Homo sapiens: one gene and its partners. The protein of the gene in region 5 purifies or fractionates together with the protein of the main gene of each other region. This does not show direct contact. Each region holds a gene or a part of one and is shown on either strand. Other genes may lie near its edges. The genes, in order: NT5E, TMEM67, TKFC, MST1R, ALDH6A1, HACL1 and OAS1.

The links.
Region 1: the proteins of ALDH6A1 (region 5) and NT5E fractionate together in Homo sapiens (co-fractionation; one large-scale study listed by BioGRID). This does not show direct contact.
Region 2: the proteins of ALDH6A1 (region 5) and TMEM67 fractionate together in Homo sapiens (co-fractionation; one large-scale study listed by BioGRID). This does not show direct contact.
Region 3: the proteins of ALDH6A1 (region 5) and TKFC fractionate together in Homo sapiens (co-fractionation; one large-scale study listed by BioGRID). This does not show direct contact.
Region 4: the proteins of ALDH6A1 (region 5) and MST1R fractionate together in Homo sapiens (co-fractionation; one large-scale study listed by BioGRID). This does not show direct contact.
Region 6: the proteins of ALDH6A1 (region 5) and HACL1 fractionate together in Homo sapiens (co-fractionation; one large-scale study listed by BioGRID). This does not show direct contact.
Region 7: the proteins of ALDH6A1 (region 5) and OAS1 purify together in Homo sapiens (co-immunoprecipitation; one large-scale study listed by IntAct). This does not show direct contact.

The regions. Positions count from the first base shown.
Region 1 is NC_000006.12:85,488,083-85,491,582, reverse strand, and holds part of NT5E (5'-nucleotidase isoform 1 preproprotein), read right to left. Parts: intron 2,090-3,500; coding exon 1,984-2,089; intron 1,076-1,983; coding exon 926-1,075; intron 1-925. UniProt on the Homo sapiens protein: Catalyzes the hydrolysis of nucleotide monophosphates, releasing inorganic phosphate and the corresponding nucleoside, with AMP being the preferred substrate. Shows a preference for ribonucleotide monophosphates over their equivalent deoxyribose forms.
Region 2 is NC_000008.11:93,761,394-93,764,893, forward strand, and holds part of TMEM67 (meckelin isoform 1 precursor), read left to right. Parts: intron 1-2,448; coding exon 2,449-2,548; intron 2,549-3,500. UniProt on the Homo sapiens protein: Required for ciliary structure and function. Part of the tectonic-like complex which is required for tissue-specific ciliogenesis and may regulate ciliary membrane composition.
Region 3 is NC_000011.10:61,339,728-61,343,227, forward strand, and holds part of TKFC (triokinase/FMN cyclase), read left to right. Parts: intron 1-1,708; coding exon 1,709-1,787; intron 1,788-2,095; coding exon 2,096-2,185; intron 2,186-2,733; coding exon 2,734-2,768; intron 2,769-2,846; coding exon 2,847-2,931; intron 2,932-3,027; coding exon 3,028-3,117; intron 3,118-3,500.
Region 4 is NC_000003.12:49,890,374-49,893,873, forward strand, and holds part of MST1R (macrophage-stimulating protein receptor isoform 1 preproprotein), read right to left. Parts: intron 1,466-3,500; coding exon 1,385-1,465; intron 1,208-1,384; coding exon 1,026-1,207; intron 934-1,025; coding exon 824-933; intron 278-823; coding exon 112-277; intron 1-111. UniProt on the Homo sapiens protein: Receptor tyrosine kinase that transduces signals from the extracellular matrix into the cytoplasm by binding to MST1 ligand. Regulates many physiological processes including cell survival, migration and differentiation.
Region 5 is NC_000014.9:74,063,954-74,067,453, reverse strand, and holds part of ALDH6A1 (methylmalonate-semialdehyde/malonate-semialdehyde dehydrogenase [acylating], mitochondrial isoform 1 precursor), read left to right. Parts: coding exon 1-74; intron 75-567; coding exon 568-749; intron 750-1,361; exon of another isoform or gene 1,362-2,093; coding exon 2,094-2,273; exon of another isoform or gene 2,274-2,533; coding exon 2,534-2,632; exon of another isoform or gene 2,633-2,665; coding exon of another isoform or gene 2,666-2,766; intron 2,767-3,500. UniProt on the Homo sapiens protein: Malonate and methylmalonate semialdehyde dehydrogenase involved in the catabolism of valine, thymine, and compounds catabolized by way of beta-alanine, including uracil and cytidine.
Region 6 is NC_000003.12:15,563,570-15,567,069, reverse strand, and holds part of HACL1 (2-hydroxyacyl-CoA lyase 1), read left to right. Parts: intron 1-2,411; coding exon 2,412-2,519; intron 2,520-3,500. UniProt on the Homo sapiens protein: Peroxisomal 2-OH acyl-CoA lyase involved in the cleavage (C1 removal) reaction in the fatty acid alpha-oxydation in a thiamine pyrophosphate (TPP)-dependent manner.
Region 7 is NC_000012.12:112,916,962-112,920,403, forward strand, and holds the end of OAS1 (2'-5'-oligoadenylate synthase 1), read left to right. Parts: intron 1-585; coding exon 586-739; coding exon of another isoform or gene 740-796; exon of another isoform or gene 797-1,635; coding exon of another isoform or gene 1,636-1,752; exon of another isoform or gene 1,753-2,427; coding exon 2,428-2,592; coding exon of another isoform or gene 2,593-2,732; 3' UTR 2,733-2,942; downstream 2,943-3,442.

The DNA of each region.
Region 1 (3,500 bases), on a different chromosome or scaffold from region 5:
GATTTGGTGACTTCCACAAGGCATAGAGCTATGCAGTGCTTTGCTAGAGCATCAGAAAACTGCTTTTCCCTCAACTCCCTTCTGGGAAAATGGAGGATGTTTGGGTTGCCCCATAGGCATTAGGACAGGGCCCCACTGCCTTCTGTAGCCCTTCAGTCTCAACAGCAATGTGTTCTGCAGAGGAAAACTCAGGAAAGCAATTCTATCTGTCAAGCGGGACCACAACCTAAGGTTAAAAAAATGAGGCCAGATTATGATTTCCAGGTAAAATAAGATTGCTTTTAAAGGATTAATTCACTGGACTGTGGAATTATTAACAAAAGTGTTTCAGAAGCCCTTGGCAATTTAGGAAGCATTTATTTCCATTCAACTTTCACTGCAGTCCATGAGATAAACAGGAAAGGTTTTCTCCCTGTGCCCAGAGGGGTTGAGAACTTGCCCCAGGTCACAGTGGGACTAGAACCAGGTGTTCAGGTATGTCTGTGCAGTAGGCTGCTCCTTCCAGGAATCATCCTGGTTAATACAGATTGGACAGCATTCCTTTAAATCTTGGCATGGTTCCAGGCAACGATGAGTAGAACAGAGGAGAGGATTTAAAAAAAAAATAATTGAATGCTTAAATAAGATTTTATTAGAAACTAGACCTCAAAGCAGGTGACCTGCTTAGAGGGCCCATCTGATGTCCAAATCAGACTTGGCAAATACTGCTTATTGCCAGGGCTTTGGGGCTTTGGGGCTTTGACCCCAACCTAATCTTAGTGGCTCTGAGAGTCCACAGCCATTAAAGGGTAAGGTATTGGTGTTGGGTCGGGAAAAATCCAAACCAGTTTGACCACAGGAATTTTGGTGAAGGGGAAGCTGAGCCAACCAGCAGGAAATGCCATGTCACTTTGGATGGGCCAGCCCTACAGGATGGGTGACTTACCGCCCACCTGCAGGAACTCTCCAGTGGACTGGCCGTAGCGGTGCACGCTATGCTCAAAGGCCTTCTTCAGGGTGGAACCTTTTAACTGGACTAGGTCAAATGTGCCTCCAAAGGGCAATACAGCAGCCAGGTTCTCCCAGGTAATTGTGCCTGAGGGTAGTCACAGATGAGGCAAGAAGGAAAATAGCTTGAGAAAATGCTTACACCATGACCAGTTTCCCTCAGCGCTGGGGGAAGAAATGAGGGGGACATGGGAAGCTTATAGAGCATCATTAGCTATGTCTAAGTGGTTCCTGACACTGAGGAAGGGAATGAGTTTAGGAGGCCTCTGGCCCTGCACTCCACCACTGGGCAAGATGGCGGGAGCTCACAAATGGCTGTGCCTCAGAAGTTCACCATGCTCAGTCTTAGATCTGCTAGCTTGGGGCTGGATCTCCAGTAGTTTGTTTTGCATTGTTCCGTTCCTCCAGACAAACAATGTGCCCCTGCAACCTGTCCCTGTTGTCTGACAATGGGATGCGTTTGGGGCCTTATACTGATACTGATTGGTTTTCACAGTAAATCAGGGAGGGCTACAAGAGTGTCTTGAGTATTTGTGTAGTTGATTTGTTTTGCCATATGATATAATCTTGGATATCTGTAAATATACTAAGGTAACATTTTAATCCAGTGGTATGTCTTTTTCAGGACAGAAGATTGGTGATTTTGTCTCTTTTCAGATGCCAAGGTGGTGACTGTTGTTATTTTGCATAAATCAGAAACAACTAGTATAGCTTTGTAAGTCAGAAATTCAGACCAAGTTTGAGTTCCACTAACCTTACCTGCAGCTTCTGTGTGTGAATACATATAAGAACACACAAGCTTGTGTGTGTCCTTCAGGCTAGGTTTTAGACTTTAATAATGGCTAACCCTAATTTAAAGGACTGACATTCTGGTACATGGCTGGCAGCAGAGATGAACTGAGGCTGCACATGGGTGTGTTCAGGGCAAGAACCATAACAGAAAAGGAGATCAGAGAGAGAACATGACACACTGAGGAGCTGGGCCTGGGAGCATACCATTGTTGCGTTCATCAATGGGCGACCGGATACCACCTCCATTTAAAATGCACATGGATACGTGGTTCCAGAACATTTCATCCGTGTGTCTCAGGTTGTTGTTAATCTGCAACAGTAGCACAGATTTACACTAGTTACTCTGGCTCTTCTTCCTTAGGATCAGCTCCAGGAATCTGGTTAGCTCTAGTGAGGAAATAAAGCTGCTTTTCACCTGCTGCTGTGTTCCCAGGGATCTCTCAACTATAATTAGAACTAATTTTATGCTCCCAGAAGTAAAAATATACTGTTACCAGTCCATGTCAAACTCTTATTTCCCCCTCCTAAAACTCCCATACTGTCAGGCCAGGTGGCCTTAGCAAAATGGTCTCTCGGTTGTAGCCCTGGTGTCGGGACTGGGCCTCCCATGCAAGGTGGCCTGCAGAGTCACTCCTGCACAGGCTTCTCCAGGGCAGGCCATGCCCTCTGCCTGATTCTGAGGGCTTGGCCCTAGAGCCTGCTCAACACCAGACCTCATGCCAAAGAGAACCTGGCCTCCACGTCTATGTCTGCAGCTGATTCCCAAGTTGGCAATTTTGGAAAGACAGAGACAGCCTTTTGAAGCTGGGGAGAATCACATCCATTCTTACTTTTATTTTACAAAATATATGTTTAGTTATAAGAAATAAAATGAATATATTCTCATTTAGGAGACAAAAAGCCGAAAAAAAAAAAAAAAAAAGGCCAGGCATAGTGGCTCACACCTGTAAATCCCAGCACTTTGGGAGGCTGTGGCAGGTGGATCACCTAAGGTCAGGAGTTCGAGACCAGTCTAGCCAACATGGTGAAACCCCGTCTCTACTAAAGATACAAAAATTAGCTGGGTGTGGTAGTGGACACCTCTAATCCCAGCTACTTGGGAGGCTGAAGCAGGAGAATCGCTTGAACCCAAGGGACGGAGGTTGCAGTGAGCTGAGATCATGCCACTGCACTCCAGCCTGGGCGACAGAGCAAGACTCAGTCTCAATAAATAAATAAATTAATTAATTAAATAAATAAATAAATAAAAAGCAAAAGCTCTCCTTTGTCCTAGCCTCTTTAACAGAGTGGATAAGCACTGCCAACAGCCTGGGTTGTTTCCCTCCAGACTTCTCTTAACATTTATATACCAGCTTCTCCTTAACTACTTCTCTGGCATTGACTGCATGATGCTGAGGAGACATCATGAGTCTGGTCTTGGCATGAGCATGATTGTTGTCATTTACACGGCAAACATTTATCGAGTGCAGTTGTATCCTGGGCACTGGGCAATGCATGCCAAGCACTGACAGAAATGACTTCCCTGGGTGCAGGCTGTGAGCCCATGGAAGTAGTAGTCCGACATAGGAGACCTTGGCTCAGTAAGGCCCCCAGAGAGCTACCATGGCCATTCCGCCTGGTGACAAGTAGACGGGCTTGTTCTTCATACCTGGTCTTGCTCAGCCATAGGACTTGTTATTACCATTAAAACTGTGTGTTGTCTTTCTGTGCCTGTGAAAGAG
Region 2 (3,500 bases), on a different chromosome or scaffold from region 5:
GTGCAACCTCTGTGGAAAGCAAATTTATGGTGTTTATCAAAATTAAAAATACAGATTATCTTTGCCTGGAAAGCTCTCATCTAGAAATTTCTCATTTGGATACACTTAACTGTATGCCTGAAGAAGTGTTGAATGTTTTTTTCTTGCAACATTATTCCTAAGACAAAAGATTATAAACAAAATAAGATTCTATCAAGATGAGATCAATCAATTAAATTATGATATAGTCATACAATGGTATAGAATGCAATTGTGGAAAAATAAAGAGGCAGTTCTACACATAGTGCTATGGAAAGAAATCTAAGATATATTGAGTAAAAAAGCAAGATTTGGAATAATTTATTCATTCATCTACAAATGTTTATTGAGTACCTGCTATTTATCAGCACTATTTTATGTACTTGGTATTCCACTATTTAGCTTTTTAAAGACCATTATATATGCATATGTGCTTGTATATGCACAGGTTATTTCTGAAAAGACTCATAAGAAACTGTTAACAATGCTGCCTCCTGAGTGAAGAACTGAGTGCCTGGGAATAGTGGGAAAGAGACTTAATTTTCATTTTAAATCTTTTTTTGCTTGGTGCAGTGTTTCACGCCTGTAATCGCAGCACTTTGGGAAGCCGAGGTGGGTGGATCACCTGAGGTTAGAAGTTCAAAACCACCCTGGCCAACATGGTGAAACCCTGTCTCTACTAAAAATAGAAAAATTAGCTGGGCATGGTGGCAGGTGCCTGTAGTCCCAGCTACTTGGGACACTGAGGCAGGAGAATCACTTGAATCTGGGAAGTGGAGGTTACAGTGAGTGAGATCACGCCACTGTGCTCCAGCCTGGATGACAAGAGCGAAACTCTCTCAAAAAATAAAATAAAATAAATCCTTTTGTGCCTTTTATTTTTATATTTCATATATTACCCAAAGATTAATTTTTTAATTATCTTTACCTTTTTTTTTTTTTACTTTTTAACAATTTTTTTTTTTGTGGTGATGGGGGTCTTACTATATATCTCAAGCTGGTCTTGAACTCCTGACCTCAAGCAGTCCTCCTGCCTTGACCTCTCAATGTGTTGGGATTACAGGTGTGAGCCACCATGCCTGGTCTTATTTTTTCAGAGACGTGGTCTTGTTATGTTACCCAGGCTGGATTCAAACTCCTGGGCTTAAGCAATCTACTGCACCCAGCTTCTTAGTAGTTTCATTGGCACTGTTGCCTCCATTGAAAATATTAACTTGATTCTCACGGTATTTGGGGGGTGTATTCTTAGGGATGGGACTAATGAAAGTTTTATGAGTTGGATGGCAATATGAAATTTATTACACTTCATGATGTACTAATTTTGGTGTGTGTGTCTCTGTGTGTGCACATTCAGAATTTTTTTTCCCTGTTTTATTATAAGGATCTACACTATATAGCCACAGGAAACATAAGTGGTATGTTTGCATAAATGTTTCATACACAAATATTGTTCTAGCATACTTTTTTCAGTTAACGGTATGCTCTGATGCTCTGTTAGATTTACCTGATTCTTTTTGTTTGTTTGTTTTTTGAAACAGGGTCTCACTCTTGCCCAGGCTGGAGTGTAGTGGTGTGATCTCAGCTCACTGCAACCTCCACCTACCAGGTTCAAGTGATTCTCATGCCTCAGACACTTGAGTAGCTGGGATTACAGGCACGTGCCACCACACCCAGCTAATTTTGTATTTTTTTTTTTTTAGTAGAGACAAGGTTTTGCCATATTGGCCAGGCTGGTCTTGAACTCCTGGCCTCATGTGATCCACCCACCTTAGCCTCCCAAAGGGCTGGGATTACAGGCATAAGCCTCCTCACCTGGCCTTACCTGATTCTTTTTAATATATTCCATAGTATTTTGTAGCATGGATATACCATCATTCTGCTATTTTAAATATTCGTGTTGTTTCTAACAAATAATGCCTCAGTGAATATCCTTATATACATGTTCAAGTGTTTCTGTAAGTTAGGTATCTAAAAACAAAATTGTGGTGTTATAAGGATGTGAATTTGAAACTTTAATAGATACTACTAAAAGCCTTCTAAGTTGCAGAAACTTATCAGTAATCTATGAAAATACTTGCTTCCCCATCCTAGTGTGACAGAAATGTATAGATAAGAGGTAAGAAAATTTTTGAGGAAAAAAATACTGACTTAATTGTTACGATGACTTGGAAAATGATTTTCTATATTTTACTATGTGAGAATAGGGAAGGCATCACTTCTCTTTTTTTTTGGAGGCATGGACGGGTACGAAGGGATCACTTCTCTACACTTTATTATGGAGATACTTGTTATGCCTTTAATGCAAATAAAGTGTTTTGAGAATTAATAGAATAATAGTTACAATTGGGTTTTGTTAAATATTTTCTGAATATGTAGAAGCTTATATGTTTACTATGAGTTACATCTTTATTTTGTTTCTAAACTGTTCAGTGGAAAGAGACATTAATGGAACATTGTTGTCTCAAGCAACTTGTGAGCTCTGTGATGGAAATGAAAACTCTTTTATGGTAGTAAATGCTTTAGGAGACAGGTAAGCAGTGTGATGGGGGCTAACTTCATTAATATCATCTTATATTAGTGTATAATTTGTACTTTTAAGAGTGTTTTCCTATCATATCACTTAGTTTTCACAATAACCCAAGGAAGGATAGAAGTAGACATTAACAGATACAGAAGCTGAGGCCCAGAGCGTGAGACACACTAGGGTTCAAATTTTGGTCCAGTCTGTTAGTTGTCTGACCTTGGATAGCTCACTACTTCACAATCCCTTGTCTTTAGAATGGTAATGTTACCACCCACTTCATAGGCTGTAATGGCTCAGAAATAATAAGTAATAAAGTAAATAGATACAGTTCTTAGTATAGTGCTACATAGTAACCACTCTGTACAGGGTAGCTATTTTTGTTTGTTGTTACATAATTTGTATATAATCTGTAATATAATTATGTGCTAAGTACTGTACTAAAGCCCTTATGTATTATAATGTTACATAGAAAAACATAAATGTATGCTAATAATAGCCCAGGTACCCTGATTTATAGTCCCATTTTCTGTTGCTTCCTGTTCCCCCTTTGTGCATGTATTTGTGAAACACACACACACACACACACACACCCCTGCCTGCCTATATACTTCCCTCTAATTTAAGCACATTATACCAATTTCAGCATCTTTAATTTATTAGAGGCCTACATCATGACTTCCCTCCGGGCACAGTTTTTTCTTTAGTTTCCAAGTTTAATATGGAAAATAGTTGAGCAGCTTTTCTGAGGGCTACTTAGTGTTGGATCATCTTTTCTCTAAGGCTGACCTGAGTTATGGCATCCAAATACCAATTTTTTTTGCCCAATATTTCCCCAAGCCTAGTGTGTTTTATGTCATGCCCCAGCCCGACTCCTACCTGCTCTATTTTGCAAGTGATGAATACCCATATATTCACTCATCACTGTCCTCATTGGACCAGTACCCTCCCTCCCTCTGTC
Region 3 (3,500 bases), on a different chromosome or scaffold from region 5:
GCCTTGGTTCAGGGGTCATCTACTCATGCCTGATGGCTGCAGCCACCTCCTCACTGGGCTCCCCTGCCTGCTTCCTGCCTTCTGGCCTTGCTCATCCATTCTCCACACTACTGCCAGAGGTGTCTTTTTAAAATGTGTATCTGACTAGGTTATTCATCCACTGAAAGCCTTCTTGGGTGCCTACAATCAATACAAGCCCTCACCATAGCTCCCTGACTCCCCACCTTCATCTCCCATCATCCCTGCCTTCCTCTTTTTTTTATTTTCTTTTATTTATTTTTTATTTATTTATTTATTTTTTGAGGCAGAGTCTCACTCTGTTGCCCAGGCTGGAATGCAGTGGCGCGATCTTGGCTCACTGCAGTCTCCGCTGCCCAGGTTTAAGTGATTCTCCTTCCTCAGCCTCCCGAGTAGCTGGGATTACAAGGCGCCTGCCACCACGCCCGGCTAATTTTTGTATTTTTAGTAGAGATGTGGTTTCACCATGTTGGCCAGGCTGGCCTCGAACTCCTGACCTCAAGTGATCTGCCCGCCTCGGCCTCCCAAAGTGCTGGGATGACGAGCGTGAGCCACCGCGCCCAGCCATCCCTGCCTTCCTCTTTTTTTTTTTTTTTTTTTTTTTTTTTTTTTTTTTTTTTGAGACGGAGTCTCGCTCTGTCGCCCAGGCCGGACTGCGGACTGCAGTGGCGCAATCTCGGCTCACTGCAAGCTCCGCTTCCCGGGTTCACGCCATTCTCCTGCCTCAGCCTCCCGAGTAGCTGGGACTACAGGCGCCCGCCACCGCGCCCGGCTAATTTTTTGTATTTTTAGTAGAGACGGGGTTTCACCTTGTTAGCCAGGATGGTCTCGATCTCCTGACCTCATGATCCACCCGCCTCGGCCTCCCAAAGTGCTGGGATTACAGGCGTGAGCCACCGCGCCCGGCCCCTGCCTTCCTCTTATGGTCTCTTCACGCCAGCTCCTGTACCTGCCAGGCTATGGATCATCTCTGGCTTTGCTTATGCAGTATCTGTGGCCTGGAAAATTCTTTCCTTGTCCAGCCTCCTTTTGGCCTGGCTAACTCCTACCATTCTACAGAGGCCCAGCTCTGATGTCTCCCCACCTGGAAGGCTCTCCCTGATCTCCATCTCCCCACTACCCTGAGCTGGTTGGCAGCCAGTCCTAGTGTGGACTCCATCACTGTAATTACCACCTCACATAAATTTTCAATTTATGGGTATCTGCTTCCCTAGCCTCTCCCCAGGCTGTGAGTTCTTGAAGGTGGAGACTGTGACTTAGTCGCCTTTTTTCCTTTTCAGCATATACTAGATGCTTGGTAAAAATTGGGTGGATGGATGGATGGATAGATGGGTAAAGTGACCCAAAATAGCAAGGCTATGGGAGAGAGAACTCTGGAACTCTAGAGTTGGGAAACTGGCCACCCACTGGCTGTGTGACATTGGACAAGTCACCGCCCCTCTCTGGGTCCATTTCCCCATTTGTAAAGTCTCTTCTGACTCCAACAGACTGGAATTCTTGAAGATTCCTGGCAGGTACACTGTGAATGAGGGGAGTTTGCTCTTCTGCCCTAAATGTGATGGGCCAGGTTGAGTGTGAAAATCCTGAGGTTCCCCCTTCCCAACAAGAAATTCATCCCCTGCCTGTCTTCTACCCCACATGGTACAGTGATACCCTCCCCCCTGGGGCTTTTACCTCTTTGTGGCTGCAGGTGGCAGGTGCTCTGGCTGAGGCTGGTGTGGGGCTGGAGGAGATCGCAAAGCAGGTGAACGTGGTCGCCAAGGCCATGGGTGAGTGCTGGCCTGGGAGCTGGGGAAGAGAGTGGGGAAGGTTGGACAGCCCTGGGGCGAGGAGCAGGTTCCTGTTGGCTGCCTAGCGGTGCTCCCCAGGTTATTCCCCAGGGGTCTAGGGAGTGTATCCCTGGGGGAGCTCCTGGGGACTGGTGGCCTTGGGTACCATGGCTGAGGTGGAGAGTCTGGCAGCCTTTCTCAGAGAAGAGGGTACCTGTGGGCAGGGCCTCTGAGATGCTGCTGCCACCCTTCCTGATGCCCAGTGCTAAGAGTGGAACAGTCATCCCTTCATGCCTTGTTTCTCATAGGTACCCTGGGGGTGAGCTTATCCTCCTGCAGCGTCCCTGGTTCCAAACCCACCTTCGAGCTCTCAGCCGACGAGGTGGAGCTGGGCCTGGGTAAGCTTGTGGCCATCCATCCCAGCCCTGCCTGCTCCTTGGCCCTGGACTTTGCCCACCTTGCATACCCTTAGAGCCATCAACCTGGTCCTCTCCCCAGGTGGTCTTAGTATTTTTACCTGGTCATTTGAGGCCCAGCCTGGGCCAACCTGCCTGATTTCTACCTGCTTTGCTGTCTATACCCACAGCTTTGGCCATGTGGAGCTCTGTGCACTGCCCACCTCCTAGCCTTTGCCTGCCATTCCCAGGTCCTCCTGTCCCTGCCAGAATACACCCTTCTTTCAACGGCTGTTCAAAGATCACCTGGCTGCAAAGCTTTCTTTCCTCGCCTGTGCTTCCTCCTTAACTATCTCTAGTTAAAGCTATCTCCACCACCAGGCCACAAGCTCCCAGAGAACAGAGATCGTGTTTTTCATTATTCTGTCCATTTCCATCCCCCACTCCCGCCCACTTACTGTGTGAGTCCAGCACTGTGTGAGTCCTTGATAAAAACGATGAGCAAATCCCCAGGCCTTGAGTGGGTCAGCAGTGACCACATCTATCCGCAGGGATCCACGGGGAAGCTGGTGTGCGCCGGATAAAGGTAGGTGGTCCCTCTGGCACAGGCCGCCCTAAGGCCAAGGCCCCCCAGATGCAGCTCATTCCTGGCTCCCTCTGACAGATGGCAACCGCCGATGAGATTGTGAAACTCATGCTCGACCACATGACAAACACCACCAACGCGTCCCATGTGCCTGTGCAGCCCGGTGGGTAGCCTCTCGCCCGCGTCTCCCAACCCCTCCTAAACCTCTGGGGAGGAGACGCCCAGAGGGTCTCACCTGGGGTGTCATGTCTACCCGCAGGCTCCTCAGTTGTGATGATGGTCAACAACCTGGGTGGCCTGTCATTCCTGGAACTGGGCATCATAGCCGACGCTACCGTCCGCTCCCTGGGTGAGCCATGCACTGGGAAGGGGATCCTACAGCCCTTTGGAAAGGGCTGAGGGAGGGTCTTGTGATGGCAGAGAACACGGACTGTGCGTCAGATAAGCCTGAGTTAAATCGTCTCTCTGCCACCTAATTGCCGGATACCTTGAGCCTCTGTTTGTTTTCTTGTCTGCAAATTGGGGGTAATAATAATGGTACCTGCTTTATACCGTTGTTTTGAGGATTAAGTGAGATTAAACATATGTAAGACACTCAACACAGCGCCCAGCACCTGGCACGAACTGAGTAAATGAGACCTGTAATTACTCATCTTCCCCGACGTAGGGGACACCTCCAGGGAACGTGGTCATTTGTGGGGTTATTGAGGGATGCCTGCCAGGAGGAAATCA
Region 4 (3,500 bases), on a different chromosome or scaffold from region 5:
GTCATCTACCCTGGGGACTCCCTGGGCTCAGATCATTCAGAGCTGAATGGGTGAGGCCCAGTGTTCTTGGGTGCCAAAGCCATGTGGACTGTAGGGCAGGTGGGGCCTCACCACATCAGACTTGGTGGTAAATCTATAGGTCTGCAGGCTCTCCAGCGCCATCCACTTCACAGGTAGGCGAGCGTGGCGATGCTGTTGAACACTATAGTACTCCCTGTCCAGGATGTCGCGGGCCAAACCAAAGTCAGCCACCTTGACTGTGAATGACTCGTCCAGCCTTAGGGGTAGGGAGAGGATCACACTTAGGACTGGCCCTTACCAGGCCCTGAACCCACCTGTTCTAGGCCCTTACAGAATTTTTTTTTTTTTTGAGACGGAGTCTCGCTCTGTCACCCAGGCTGGAGTGCAGTGGCGCGATCTCCGCTCACTGCAAGCTCTGCCTCCTGGGGTCACGCCATTCTCCCGCCTCAGCCTCCTGAGTAGCTGGGACTACAGGGGCCCGCCACCACGCCTGGCTAATCTTTTTGTATTTTTAGTAGAGACGGGGTTTCACCGTGTTAGCCAGGATGGTCTCGATCTCCTGACCTCATGATCCGCCTTCCTCAGCCTCCCAAAGTGCTGGGATTACAGACGTGAGCCACCGCGCCTGGCCAAATTTCAAAGCCACAGTGTCCAGTCCAAGTCTGCACTGGGCAGACAAAAAAAGTAAGGTGCAGAGAGGGGAGGACAAGGCTGGAGTGGGCCCTTCCCTGAGGCGGCCTTGAGCACCGCACACCCTCATGCCCTGTCCTTTTGCTTCACCCCAGCTACTCTGGACTCTCACATGCAGTTCCGCGCAGCCAGGTCCCTGTGCACAAACTTCTGCTCTGCCAGGTACTCCATGCCGCGGGCTACCTGCAGGCCAAAGCTGATGAGGTCCTTCACGGTGGGGTTCTGGGGGCACAGGTGGGTTGGTGGGCAAGGGCACAGCAGCTCCTTCTCCAGCTGCTGCCCAGCCCCCAACCCAGAGCCAGATGAACACTGACCCGCTGAGGTGAGCGGATGAACTGGAGCAGGTCACCGTGGCACATATAGGGCAGCAGCACATGGGGCAGGCCCTCAGGTGGCAACATGATACCAATGAGAGCCAGCACATTCGGGTGGTTCAGGCCACGCATGAGCAGCCCCTCTCGCAGGAAGGCCTCCACCTGCTGCATCTCTGTGATGCCTGCAGAGCAGCGCAAGTCAGGCACAGGGCAGGGCGTCCCTTTATAAGGCTCAGATGGGGAAATGGGAAATGAAGGTCTCCTGCTCAGGGTCACTCAGTAAGGTGGGAACACAGAGAAAAAGAATCCTCCCAGCCTGAGGCCCCTCCCTCTGCCTTCCCATCTTCTGCCCCACTTACGACTTAGTGACTTGATGGCACATTGGATTCGATTCTGGGCCTGGTCTATGTATTCTCCGTGGTAGACAACTCCAAAGTGGCCTGGTGTGAGGTGCATAATGAGTCGATGAGAGGGGATCCAGGGCCCAAGGCTCACACCACACATTCTCATTGGCAACCAGACCTCAGAGCACTAAACTGGCCAATCTGACATTTTATTTATTTTTAATTTTTATTTATTTTTTTTGAGACCGAGTCTCACTCTTGCCCAGGCTGAAGTGCAGTGGTGCAATCTCAACTCATTGCAACCTCTGCCTCCCAGGTTCAAGTGATTCTCCTGCCTCAGCCTCCTGAGTAGCTGGGATTACAGGCAACTGCCACTACACACAGCTAATTTTTTTGTATTTTTAGTAGAGACTGGGTTTCACCATGTTGGCCAGGCTGGTCTCAAACTCCTGATCTTGTGATTCACCCACCTAGGCCTCCCAAAGTGCTGGGATTACAGGTGTGAGCCACCACACCCGGCCCAATCTGACATTTTAAAAAAGCAGCAGGGCTGCGTGCAGTGGCTCACACCTGTAATGCCAGCACTTTGAGAGGCCAAGGCGGGTGGATCACGAGGTCAGGAGTTTGAGACCAGCCTGGCTAATATGGTGAAACCCCATCTCTAGTCCCAGCTGCTTGGGAGCCTGAGGCAGGAGGATAGCTTGAACCCGGGAGGCAGAGGTTGCAGTGAGCCAAGATCGTGTCACTGCACTCCAGCCTGAGAGACAGGGCGAGACTCCATCCCCCTCAAAGAAAAGCAGCAGAAGCCAAGCGCAGTGCGCCTGTAATCCCAGTTACTCAGGAGGCTGAGGCAAGAGAATCGCATAAGCCCAGGAGTTCAAGGCCAGCCTGGGTAACATAGTGAGATGCTGTCTTTTTTTTAAATTAAAAAAAAAAAAAAAAGGCTCATGCCTTTAATCCTAATACTTTGGGATGCTGGGGCGGGAGGATCAGCTGAGGTCAGGGGTTCAAGACCAGTCTGGCCAACATGATGAAACCCCGTCTCTACTAAAACTACAAAAATTAGACAGGTGTGGTGGCAGTGGCAGGCCCCTGTAATCCCAGCTACTCAGGAGGCTGAGGCAGGAGAAATGCTTGAATCCAGGAGGCAGAGGTTGCAGTGAGCCGAGATTGCACTACTGCACTCCAGCCTGGGCAATAGAGTGAGACTCTGTCTCAAAAAAATAAAAATAAATAAATAAGTAAATAAAGCAGGGTCGGGTGCGATGGCTCACGCCTGTAATCCCAGCACTTCGGGAGGCCGAGGCGGGCGGATCACCTGAGGTCGGGAGTTTGAGACCAGCCTGGCCAACATGATGAAACTCCATTTCTACTAAAAATACAAAAATTAGACGGGCTTGGTGGTGCACGTCTGTAATCCCAGCTACTTAGGAGGCTGAGGCAGGAGAATCACTTGAATCCGGGAGGCAGAGGTTGCAGTGAGCTGAGATCATGCCACTGCACTCCAGCCTGGGTGACAGAGTGAGGTTCTGTCTCAAAAATAAATAAATAAATAAATAAATAAATAAATAAATAAATAGGCTGGATACAGTGGCTCACGCCTGTAATCCCAGCACTTTGGGAGATCAAGGCAGGCAGATCACCTGAGGTTAGGAGTTTGAGACCAGCCTGGCCAACATGGTGAAACCCCATCTCTACTAAAAATACAAAAATTAGCCAGGTGTGGTGGCGGGCGCCTGTAATCCCAGCTACTAGGGAGGGTGAGGCAGGAGAATTGCTTGAACCTGGGAGGGGGAGGTTGCAGTGAGCCAAGATTGCACCACTGCACTCCAGCCTGGGTGATAGAGCAAGACTCCATCTTGAAAAAATAAAATAGGCCGGGCGCGGTGGCTCACACCTGTAATCCCAGCACTTTGGGAGGCTGAGGCGGGTGGATCATGAGGTCAGGAGATCGAGACCATCCTGGCTAACACGGTGAAACCCCATCTCTACTAAAAATACAAAAAATTAGCCGGGCACGGTGGCAGGCGCCTGTAGTCCCAGCTACTTGGGAGGCTGAGGCAGGAGAATGGCATGAACCTGGGAGGCGGAGCTTGCAGTGAGTCGAGATCGCGCCACTGCACTCCAGCCT
Region 5 (3,500 bases):
AGTCCTTGTGGGAGAAGCCAAGAAGTGGCTGCCAGAGCTGGTGGAGCATGCCAAAAACCTGAGAGTCAATGCAGGTAATCAATCACCTGACTTGCCCCCTTAGATTTTGCATCTGTGGCATTAAGCTCTTGGGTTCTGTCACTGGCCTTGGCCAGTGGGAACAATCATGTCTATTCTTGCCATTTCCTCTCTTTATACTGTACTTGTCATTTGGAGTCATCTTGTTAGCAGTCTTTTTTTTTAAAGCACAGGCTGTCTGTTACCCAAGCTGGAGTGCAGTGGCACCATCCTAGCTCATGGCAGCCTCAAACTGTTGGGCTCAAGTGATCCTCCTGCCTCAGCCTCCTGAGCAGCTTGGACCACAGGTGCGGGCCACCACCTGGCTAATTTTTTTATTTTTTGTAAATATGAAGTCTCACTTTGTTGCCCAGGCTGGTCTGGAACTCCTGGGCTCAAGCAGTCCTCCTGCCTTGGCCTCCTAAAGCTTTGGGATTACAGGCATGAGCCCTGGCAGCAGTCATAATTTATGTTAATGAGGACCTTAAATTCTTCTGTGTTGTTTTACAGGAGATCAGCCTGGAGCTGATCTTGGCCCTCTGATCACTCCCCAGGCCAAAGAGCGAGTCTGTAATCTGATTGATAGTGGAACAAAGGAGGGAGCTTCCATCCTTCTTGATGGACGAAAAATTAAAGTGAAAGGCTATGAAAATGGCAACTTTGTTGGACCAACCATCATCTCGAATGTCAAGGTGAACAACTTTCACTTCACAAATATGAGAGCTGAAGGCACCTTAAAGGCTATAGAATCTCATCCCTCTAATTTATTAATGAAAATACTTAATGACTAAGACCTTATCTCTTGCCAGGATTGATCAATTATTTTATCTGGAGTCTGAATGAGCCTCTCCTTCTAACTCCCAACCAAACTCTTTCCACTATACCAGCAGTCTGCAGACTTTCCATAAAGGGATAGATATTTCCAGCTTTGCAGGGATATAGTGTCTGTTGCAACTAAACTCTGACATTGTAGTGTGAGATCAGCTATAAACATTGTGTGGCTGTGTTCCAAAAAAAATGTTATTTATGGACACTGATATTTGAATTTCATATCATTTTATATATGATTAATTTTTTTTCAACCATTTAAAAATGCAAAAACCATTTTTAACTTGGGGCTGTACAAAAACAGGCAGGAAGCCACATTTGGCCCACAGGCTATAGTTTGCCAAACGCTATCTTATCTTATACTGGTTTGTTAATGTTTTCTCTCCCCTCTCCCTCTTGCTGCCTAGCTTATGGCTACTGCAGTGTCTCAATCAATATATCAACCACCCAATATTTATTGAAAGTGACAAAAATAATTGACTTGTCAATTTTTATTTATCAAAACTTTGAAAGTCTCTCAGCTAACATGACTTAAAAATTGAGGTTATGAGGCATTTTTTGAAATTCATATATCCTTACTATAATAGTGAATCATCAAGTGTTGAATGTAAGTGCAGTAGAAATTATGAAATCTCTTGCCACAGAACCATACAGAAAAATCCGTTTATCAGCAACAAACATTAATTGCATGGTGAAGGATGTTTTGAGTGTCTGCGACCTGATATCAAAATATAAACATACAGACATATTTGGGAGGCAAAGGAGTGAATAAGAATGGATTATTTATGTTACAGAAAACAGCATGGGGTTTCTGTAAAGAGAAAAATTATCCTGGTATATTTACTATAGATTGGATTTATAAAAAATAAATTTTCATGTAACTTTTTGATAACAATTGGATGAAACTAGTCGTTCAGGTATTAAAAAGGCAGCTGATGATGGGTCATGAACTAAAGATACAGTCCCTTAAAGGAAGTGTGGTTATTGTTGATAGGAATTCCAAGTTGTTTATATGATTGGTAACTTGGAAGACGGAATACACTTGAGAGAGGACTTTTTTTTTAAATAGGTGATTTGAAATGAAAAGAGATTAGTAATATGAAAGTTGTCCACGTAAATGATGTGTAGTAAGTGAAAGTACCAAATAAGCATAAAATACTCAGAATCCAAAAAGCTGACTTCTTTTCTGGATGCATCACTCCTGGCAGCCAAATATGACCTGTTACAAAGAGGAGATTTTTGGTCCAGTTCTTGTGGTTCTGGAGACAGAAACATTGGATGAAGCCATCCAGATTGTAAATAACAACCCATATGGAAATGGAACTGCCATCTTCACCACCAATGGAGCCACTGCTCGGAAATATGCCCACTTGGTGGATGTTGGACAGGTTCGTGAACAGAATTTTTAAGAGATTCTTATATCCATTTACTATTTCCTAAGAGGAAACAGTAAATAATGGTGAGTCATTGGTTTAAGATTGCCCCCATGACCTCCCACATTGCCCCATTTCTTCCTCAGGAATGAAAGTTCATGGGGTAGAGGATAGGGTAGAAGGTGGGTATTTAAAACTGGTCTCTGATGCCTTTGTGTTTCTAAATGGAGAGTTCCTTTGTCCTTAGGATATGACACGGATTTGTTCTGTTTTAGGTGGGAGTGAATGTCCCCATTCCAGTGCCTTTGCCAATGTTCTCATTCACCGGCTCTCGATCCTCCTTCAGGGGAGACACCAATTTCTATGGCAAACAGGTAACTTTTGAGTTAAATTTTTTGTCTTTTCCTTTAAGAAATTTTCTTAAAGATATTCAGGAGCAAGGATTCTGCAAGGAAGGGACTGCCAGCAGCATCTGTGAGGTCATAATCAGTGCTTCTCAGAAGGTTCCCTAAAAAAGATTTAAAAGTTAACAAAATTTTGCCAAAGCTGCTTCTTCCTGAATAATTCAAAGCAACAAAGTTTTGAGGAAAGAGCATGGGGAAGTCTAAGCCTTTGTATATGCCATTTCCTGAGTGTGTGACCCTCTTCCCCATCTCTCCCCTTTCATCTGACTAACTCCTAATCATCTGTCATGTCTCACTTTAAAAAATGAGCTCCTCCAGAAAATCTCCTCCAACTACCACCACCCCTCCCTCAGTGCTGGGTAGTGTGACCCCAGTGTGTTCCCATTGCACGTATTTTTTCTGTAATAGTTATTCATTTACAAAAAATGTTGTTGAGCACGTTCTTTGTAGCAGACATTATTATTACTATTATTATTATTATTTTTTTTTTTTTTGAGACACAGTCTCGCTCTGTTGCCCAGGCTGGAGTGCTGTGGCATGGTCTTAGCTCACTGCAACCTCCGCCTCCTGGGTTCAAGCACTTCTCCTGCCTCAGCCTCCCGAATAGCTGGGACTACAGGTGCCTGCCACCATGCCTGGATAATTTTTTGTTTTTTAGTAGAGACAGGGTTTCACCATGTTGGCCAGGCTGGTCTTGAACTCCTGACCTTGTGATCCACCCACCTCAGCCTCCCAAAGCACTGGGATTACAGGTGTGAGCCACTCTGCCCGGTCTGTAGCAGACATTATTTTAGGCACTATGAATACAGCACTGAACAAGAAAAGTAAAGCAGATCTG
Region 6 (3,500 bases), on a different chromosome or scaffold from region 5:
GGTGGGCAGATCACCTGAGGTCAGGAGTTAGAGACCAGTCTGGCCAGCATGGTAAAACCCCATCTCTACTAAAAATACAAAAAATAGCCAGATGTGGTGGTGCATGCCTATAGTCCCAGCTATTTGGGAGGCTGAAGGCAGGAGAATCGCTTGAACCTGGGAGGTGTAGTTTGCAGTGAGCCAAGATCGCACCACTGCACTCTAGCCTGGGCGACAGAGCAAGACTCCATCGCAAAAAAAAAAAAAAAAAAAAAGTCACTTAACCAAGCCTCAGTCTCCTCTCTTCTAAAGCAGGAATAGTATCCTTTAGGCAGAAATTCCTTGAAAAAAAAAAAGTAGGAATAGTAATAGTTCCTACCTTAGAAAGATGATTATGAAAAACAAATGAGGTAATCCAAGCAGTTTTTTTTTTTCAAGATGGGGTCTTGCTTTGTCACCCAGACTGGAGTGGAATGGCGCAACTGCGGCTCACCGCAGCGTCAACCACCCAAGTTCAACGGATCCTGCCTCCTTAGCCTTCTGAGTAGCTGGGATCACAGGCATGCACCACCATGCCCAGCTAATTTTTTGTATTTTTTTGTAGAGACAGGGCTTTGCCATATTGGCCACACTGGTCTCAAATTTCTAAGCTCAAGCAATCCACCCGCCTTGGCCTCTCTAAGTGCTAGAATTACAGGTGTGAGCCACCATGCTTGGCCCCAGCTAAATTCTGAGGTGATGCTCAGTGAACATGAGTCATTTGGATCATGTGTGTAGTTATGAGAATTCATGGAGAAACTCATGAATTGTAGATCCTCACTATAGAAGGATGGGGGTTTTATTTTTCCAGCTATATTTAAACTGTAGTAAAACCATTCTATTCTTAGCCAGGGCTCTTATTAGGGCTTTTGTGAATCATGTTTTGGGGTTGGCAAAGCTTTGGTAGATAAAACGTTCAAGATTTGGGAAGGTATAGTTGTCCCTCTATATCAGTGGGGGATTGGTTCCAGGACCTTCCTCAAATACCAAAATCCAAGGATGCTCAAGTAAGTCCCTGATATAAAATTGTGCAGTATTTGCAAATAACCTATGCATACCCCCCATATATTTTTAATGATGTCTAGATTACTTTAAAATACTGAATACAATATGAATGCTATATAAATAATTGTTGTGCTGTATTGCTTAGGGAATAATGACAAGAACAAAGTCTGTGCATGTTGAGTACAGATCCAATTTTTTTTCCCAAATATTTTTGACCCGCAATTGGTTAAATCCACGGATGCAGAACTCAGATAATGAGGTCTGACTGTATGTGTCTGTTAGAGTGTCTTTATTGACAACCAAGTGATATACACAAAAAAGATGACTTATGGGGAAGTTAGCCTTTTAGTGGATAATGACTCCTTTTGAGCATGGAGAGCAAATAATTACCACAGTCCTGTTATTTAACAGTATGCAGTTTAGTTTTGTTTTTACCACTTGCCCTTGGAAATTATGTTAGAAAATAAAACCTACATTCTTTTCAGTCAATAACATTTAATCAACCTTTTCTTTTTTGTCTTTGCTATACTGTTTAGCACACTGTTAAATACTCCTTTTCTGTACTGACTACACCATGTAATGTGTTTCTGATTATGTGTGTGGTAGTTTGAGTGCAGATTGTGTGTGCTAGTTACTTGTGTATCTTCCACAGCATCTAGCAAGAGCTGGGTGTCTGTGGGGAGCTCAGTAAATAGAAAGGTACGTTTCAAACACTGTTCCTAGGAACCAACTAGAAGTGGTACTTTAGAGAGTATTAAATAGGGAAGGTGTTCTTCATATACCATCTAGACTTATGAAAACCCAGATTCAGAAAAGCTCAGTGATTTGTCTGAGGTTCATAGCTAATAGCTAAAGGACTATCAACTTTTTTTTTTTTTTTCTGAGATGGAGTCTTGCTCTGTTACCCAGGCTGGAGTGCAGTGGTGTGATCTCTGCTCACTGCAACCTCCGCCTCCCGGGTTCAAGCGATTCTTCTGCCTCAGCCTCCCGAGTAGCTGGGACTACAGGCACATGCCACCATGCACAGCTAATTTTTGTATTTTTAGTAGAGACGGGGTTTCACCATATTGGCCAGGCTTGTCTTGAACTCCTGACCTTGTGATCCGCCCACCTCAGCCTCCCAAAGTGCTGGGATTACAGGCATGAGCCATCATGCCCAGCCAGGACTAACAACTCTTAATCTTGCATTCTTTCTGCCTTTCCATGATGTTTCTGTTAATTATTTGATATTCTTTCTTAGGATAATAAATGCTTGATTTTTAGTCTTCCTCTAATAATACAAAAAGCTTATAGGAAACTATTCATTTTTAAGTTAAAGTTTCAACCCAAAGAAAAGAAATTACTTTAAAATGAAGAATGATTTCCTTCATATTTTACTCTCACTTTAGGTACAACTTGCCAATCATACTGTTGGTAGTGAATAACAATGGAATTTACCAAGGTTTTGATACAGATACTTGGAAAGAAATGTTAAAATTTCAAGATGCTACTGCAGTGTAAGTAACCAAGACCAATGTCTGTTTACTTTCTCTTTCCCGTTTTAATCTCTTTTTAAAAAGTCTTCTATATTGGCAGTAATGTGCCTACATGGTATGAGTATTGTCCGTTTCGATTGTCAGCCCTTCTAAAGAGAAGGAATCCTGTCTTAGTTCCTCTTTGCACAAATATCCATGATTAGGTGCTTCAGTAAATAATCAGGGAGCCACTGAAGACTCAGATAAATGAGTGTGATGTCTGAGCCTTGTTAATGAAAAGGCTTATTGCAAAATGCTCCCTGGACTGGGAGCAATAGTAGGACTACTGATTCCTGTTACACCATTTGGAAATGTGGATGTTTACGTATTATTTGTGTTCCAGAGGTCTACCTTCCTTTCACCACTTAGCTAAATCTTGATCATCTGATGGCAGAGCCAGATTAAGACAGTATTGTAGCTGGCCGTAGAATGTGAGACAGATATGAATTTGTGAGCCAGCCTTGGGGTGGAACAGGGTATGGGTGTGTCTATTTATGCCTCACTAACTTTATTTGTTGTTTTCTTATTATTTGTTGTTTTGCAGTAATCTTTTTTTTTCATGTTTTTCTTCTGGATTCATAATAGTTGATAATGTAGCCTGTGCTGTCTAGTATAGTAGCCACTAGGCATGCTGCAACTGTTGCAAATTAGATTTAAATTACTTCAAATTAAATGAAATTAAAAATTTAGTTCCTCAGTTTAGTCACATTTCAAGTGCTCACAGCAACAGGTAGATAGTGGCTACTGTCTTGGATGGCACAGGTTTAAAACATTTCTATCATCACAGAAAGTTCTACTGGACATTGCTATATAGACAATTATAAATATAGGAAAAACTCAGTGTACTGGCATCTCAGCTTAAGTGTTGAAGATAAAAGTATGCCTTTGAGTTCAGCTGAAATTTTTTTAATGAAGTATTTCAGAGAATGACTTTTTTTCTACAAGGTTTAAGATTTAAATTTC
Region 7 (3,442 bases), on a different chromosome or scaffold from region 5:
GGTTCTGAGAGGTAAGGAGCTTGTCCAACCCTTAACAGAAAATGAGTAAAATAGCTGCAGTTTGAACTGAAATAAGAACAGCAGCAACAACAATGATAGTAATTGCTCCCAGGTATTGAAAGCTTGTTGTAAGACTAACACATGCTAATATAATAGTAAAAATTATTAGCAATATTACTGATATGTATGTTATGTTCTAGTCGCTGTGCTGAGCATTTCATATAACTGGGCTTTTTCTATCCTCACAGCATAGCCTTTGAGATAGGTATGTGGAACTATTCCCATTTTACAGATAAGAATCCTGAGGCTTAGAGAGTTCAAGTGACCTACCCAAGGGCACATCACTGATAAAGGGCAGAGGTGGGATTCAAACCCACATCTGTCAGGTGCAAGTGCAAGGCTCCTTCTCCTCATGCTCACTGCCTGCTGGGGAATAGGGCACTGGGGACATACCCCAGGGAGCCCTTCCTCATGTTCTGAGTCCCAGTTCATCCCATGCTGCTATTTTGCTCTCCCAGGAGCATCTGGACTCCCTAGACAGAGCCCCAGCTTCTCACCTGTCCCTCTCTAAATGCTGCTCTGCAGGCCTGTGATCCTGGACCCGGCGGACCCTACAGGAAACTTGGGTGGTGGAGACCCAAAGGGTTGGAGGCAGCTGGCACAAGAGGCTGAGGCCTGGCTGAATTACCCATGCTTTAAGAATTGGGATGGGTCCCCAGTGAGCTCCTGGATTCTGCTGGTGAGACCTCCTGCTTCCTCCCTGCCATTCATCCCTGCCCCTCTCCATGAAGCTTGAGACATATAGCTGGAGACCATTCTTTCCAAAGAACTTACCTCTTGCCAAAGGCCATTTATATTCATATAGTGACAGGCTGTGCTCCATATTTTACAGTCATTTTGGTCACAATCGAGGGTTTCTGGAATTTTCACATCCCTTGTCCAGAATTCATTCCCCTAAGAGTAATAATAAATAATCTCTAACACCATTTATTGACTGTCTGCTTCGGGCTCAGGTTCTGTCCTAAGCCCTTTAATATGCACTCTCTCATTAAATAGTCACAACAATCCCATGAGGCATTTTTAAAAATTTTTTATTATTTTAGATTCAGAGGGCACATGTGCCATTTGTTACACAGCTATATTGTGTAATGGTGGGGTTTGGGCCTCTATTGATCCTGTCGCCCAAATAGTGAACAGAGTACCCAAAAAGAATTTTTTCAACCTTTGCCTTTCTCCCTTCCTCCTCCCTGTTGGAGTCCCTAGTGTCTATTGTTCCCATCTTTAGCAGATGTTAAGTATTTGATTTTCTGTTTCTGGGTTAATTCACTTCGGATAATGGCCTCCAGCTGCAACCATGATTTCATTCTTTCTTATGGCTGCATAATACTCCATGGTGTAGATATACCACACTTTCTTTATCCAGTTCACACTGATGGGCACTTAAGTTGATTCCATGACTTTGCTATTGTGAATCGTACTGCGATAAACATACGAGTGCCGGTGTCTTTTGATAGAATGATTTCTTTACCTTTGGGTAGATACCGAGTAGTGGGATTGCTGGGTTGAATGGACATTCTACTTTTAGTTATTTGAAAAGTCCCATGAGGCATGTTTTCTATCATTCCCATCTTACAGATGAGACAAAGGCTCAGAGAGGTGAGGTCACTTGCTCAAGGACATCAGCTAACAAGTGGTGGAAATGGAATTCAAGCTCAGTGGACTCTAAAGCCAGTGCTCATGTCACTGTGCTAAACAGCCTGCCTTGTCACATCCCCACCTCTCATCTGACCAATGGGAGACTCTGAGCAGCTGAGTGACTTGGGTTGTCACACAGCTAAACAGGGGCAAAGGACCCAGTCTTGGATCTTTCCACCTCCAAGCAGGAATCTGTCTGATTCCAGGGGATTGATGATGTTGCAGATGGCTAGGAAGCAGACTCCAGGATGGAATTTAGTATGCAGGATGTTCTGGGGGAGAGCCACTGGAACCAGCACTCAGGGAAAGGGGGGAAGAAAGGATAGGAAGGAAGCATGAAAGAGAATAGGGAGAAGTGAACAGGGATGCAGAGCGAATGCCAGTTTCAGCCAACTCCAAGGACAGCCCTGGAGCTGGAATGGCCTTTAGAGCTGCCCCATGGTGACAGAGGTGGCCAGGCTTCTATACCCCTACGTGGATCACTCACTGTGCTTGGGCACCTTGGGAAAGGGCATGGCTTTGAGCAAAAGGCTCTCTGCAGCTGAGGCAACCCCTAAAAGGGCTGACGGCTGAAGTCTGTCTGCTGACCACTGTCCCAGCAGCTGGGGCTTGTTAGTCCTTCCTCAAAGGGGGATCCAGATGGCATGTCACAGTGTCTACCGTAAATGCTCACTGAATCCAGCTGCAATGCAGGAAGACTCCCTGATGTGATCATGTGTCTCACCCTTTCAGGCTGAAAGCAACAGTGCAGACGATGAGACCGACGATCCCAGGAGGTATCAGAAATATGGTTACATTGGAACACATGAGTACCCTCATTTCTCTCATAGACCCAGCACACTCCAGGCAGCATCCACCCCACAGGCAGAAGAGGACTGGACCTGCACCATCCTCTGAATGCCAGTGCATCTTGGGGGAAAGGGCTCCAGTGTTATCTGGACCAGTTCCTTCATTTTCAGGTGGGACTCTTGATCCAGAGAGGACAAAGCTCCTCAGTGAGCTGGTGTATAATCCAGGACAGAACCCAGGTCTCCTGACTCCTGGCCTTCTATGCCCTCTATCCTATCATAGATAACATTCTCCACAGCCTCACTTCATTCCACCTATTCTCTGAAAATATTCCCTGAGAGAGAACAGAGAGATTTAGATAAGAGAATGAAATTCCAGCCTTGACTTTCTTCTGTGCACCTGATGGGAGGGTAATGTCTAATGTATTATCAATAACAATAAAAATAAAGCAAATACCATTTATTGGGTGTTTATTAACTTCAAGGCACAGAGCCAAGAAGTACAGATGCATATCTAGGGGTATTGTGTGTGTATATACATTGATTCAACAAGAAATATTTATTGAGCACTTACTATGTGCCAAGCATAGCTCTGGGCACTGGGAATATAGCAATGCACAAAAGCAGACAGAAATCCCTGTCCTCATGACCCTGCAGAGCCAAGACTTCCAGAATTTTTTAAATAAAAAAATCCCTGTCCTCATGGAGTTGACATTTGTGCAAAACATCTTAATGTTAGATGGTTTTCCTATTACTAATAATTCTGAAATAAGCATCCTTGATTTATCCTTTCTCCATATCTCTGAGAAAAATTATAGAACCTCCCTGTGTGACACAGCAGCCACTAGCCACATGTATCAAATGCTTAAAATGTAGCTAGTCTAAATCTACATGTGCTGTGAGTGCAAGGTATATACTTGGTTTCAAAGACTTAGTACAAATGAAAAGAATGCCAAGTT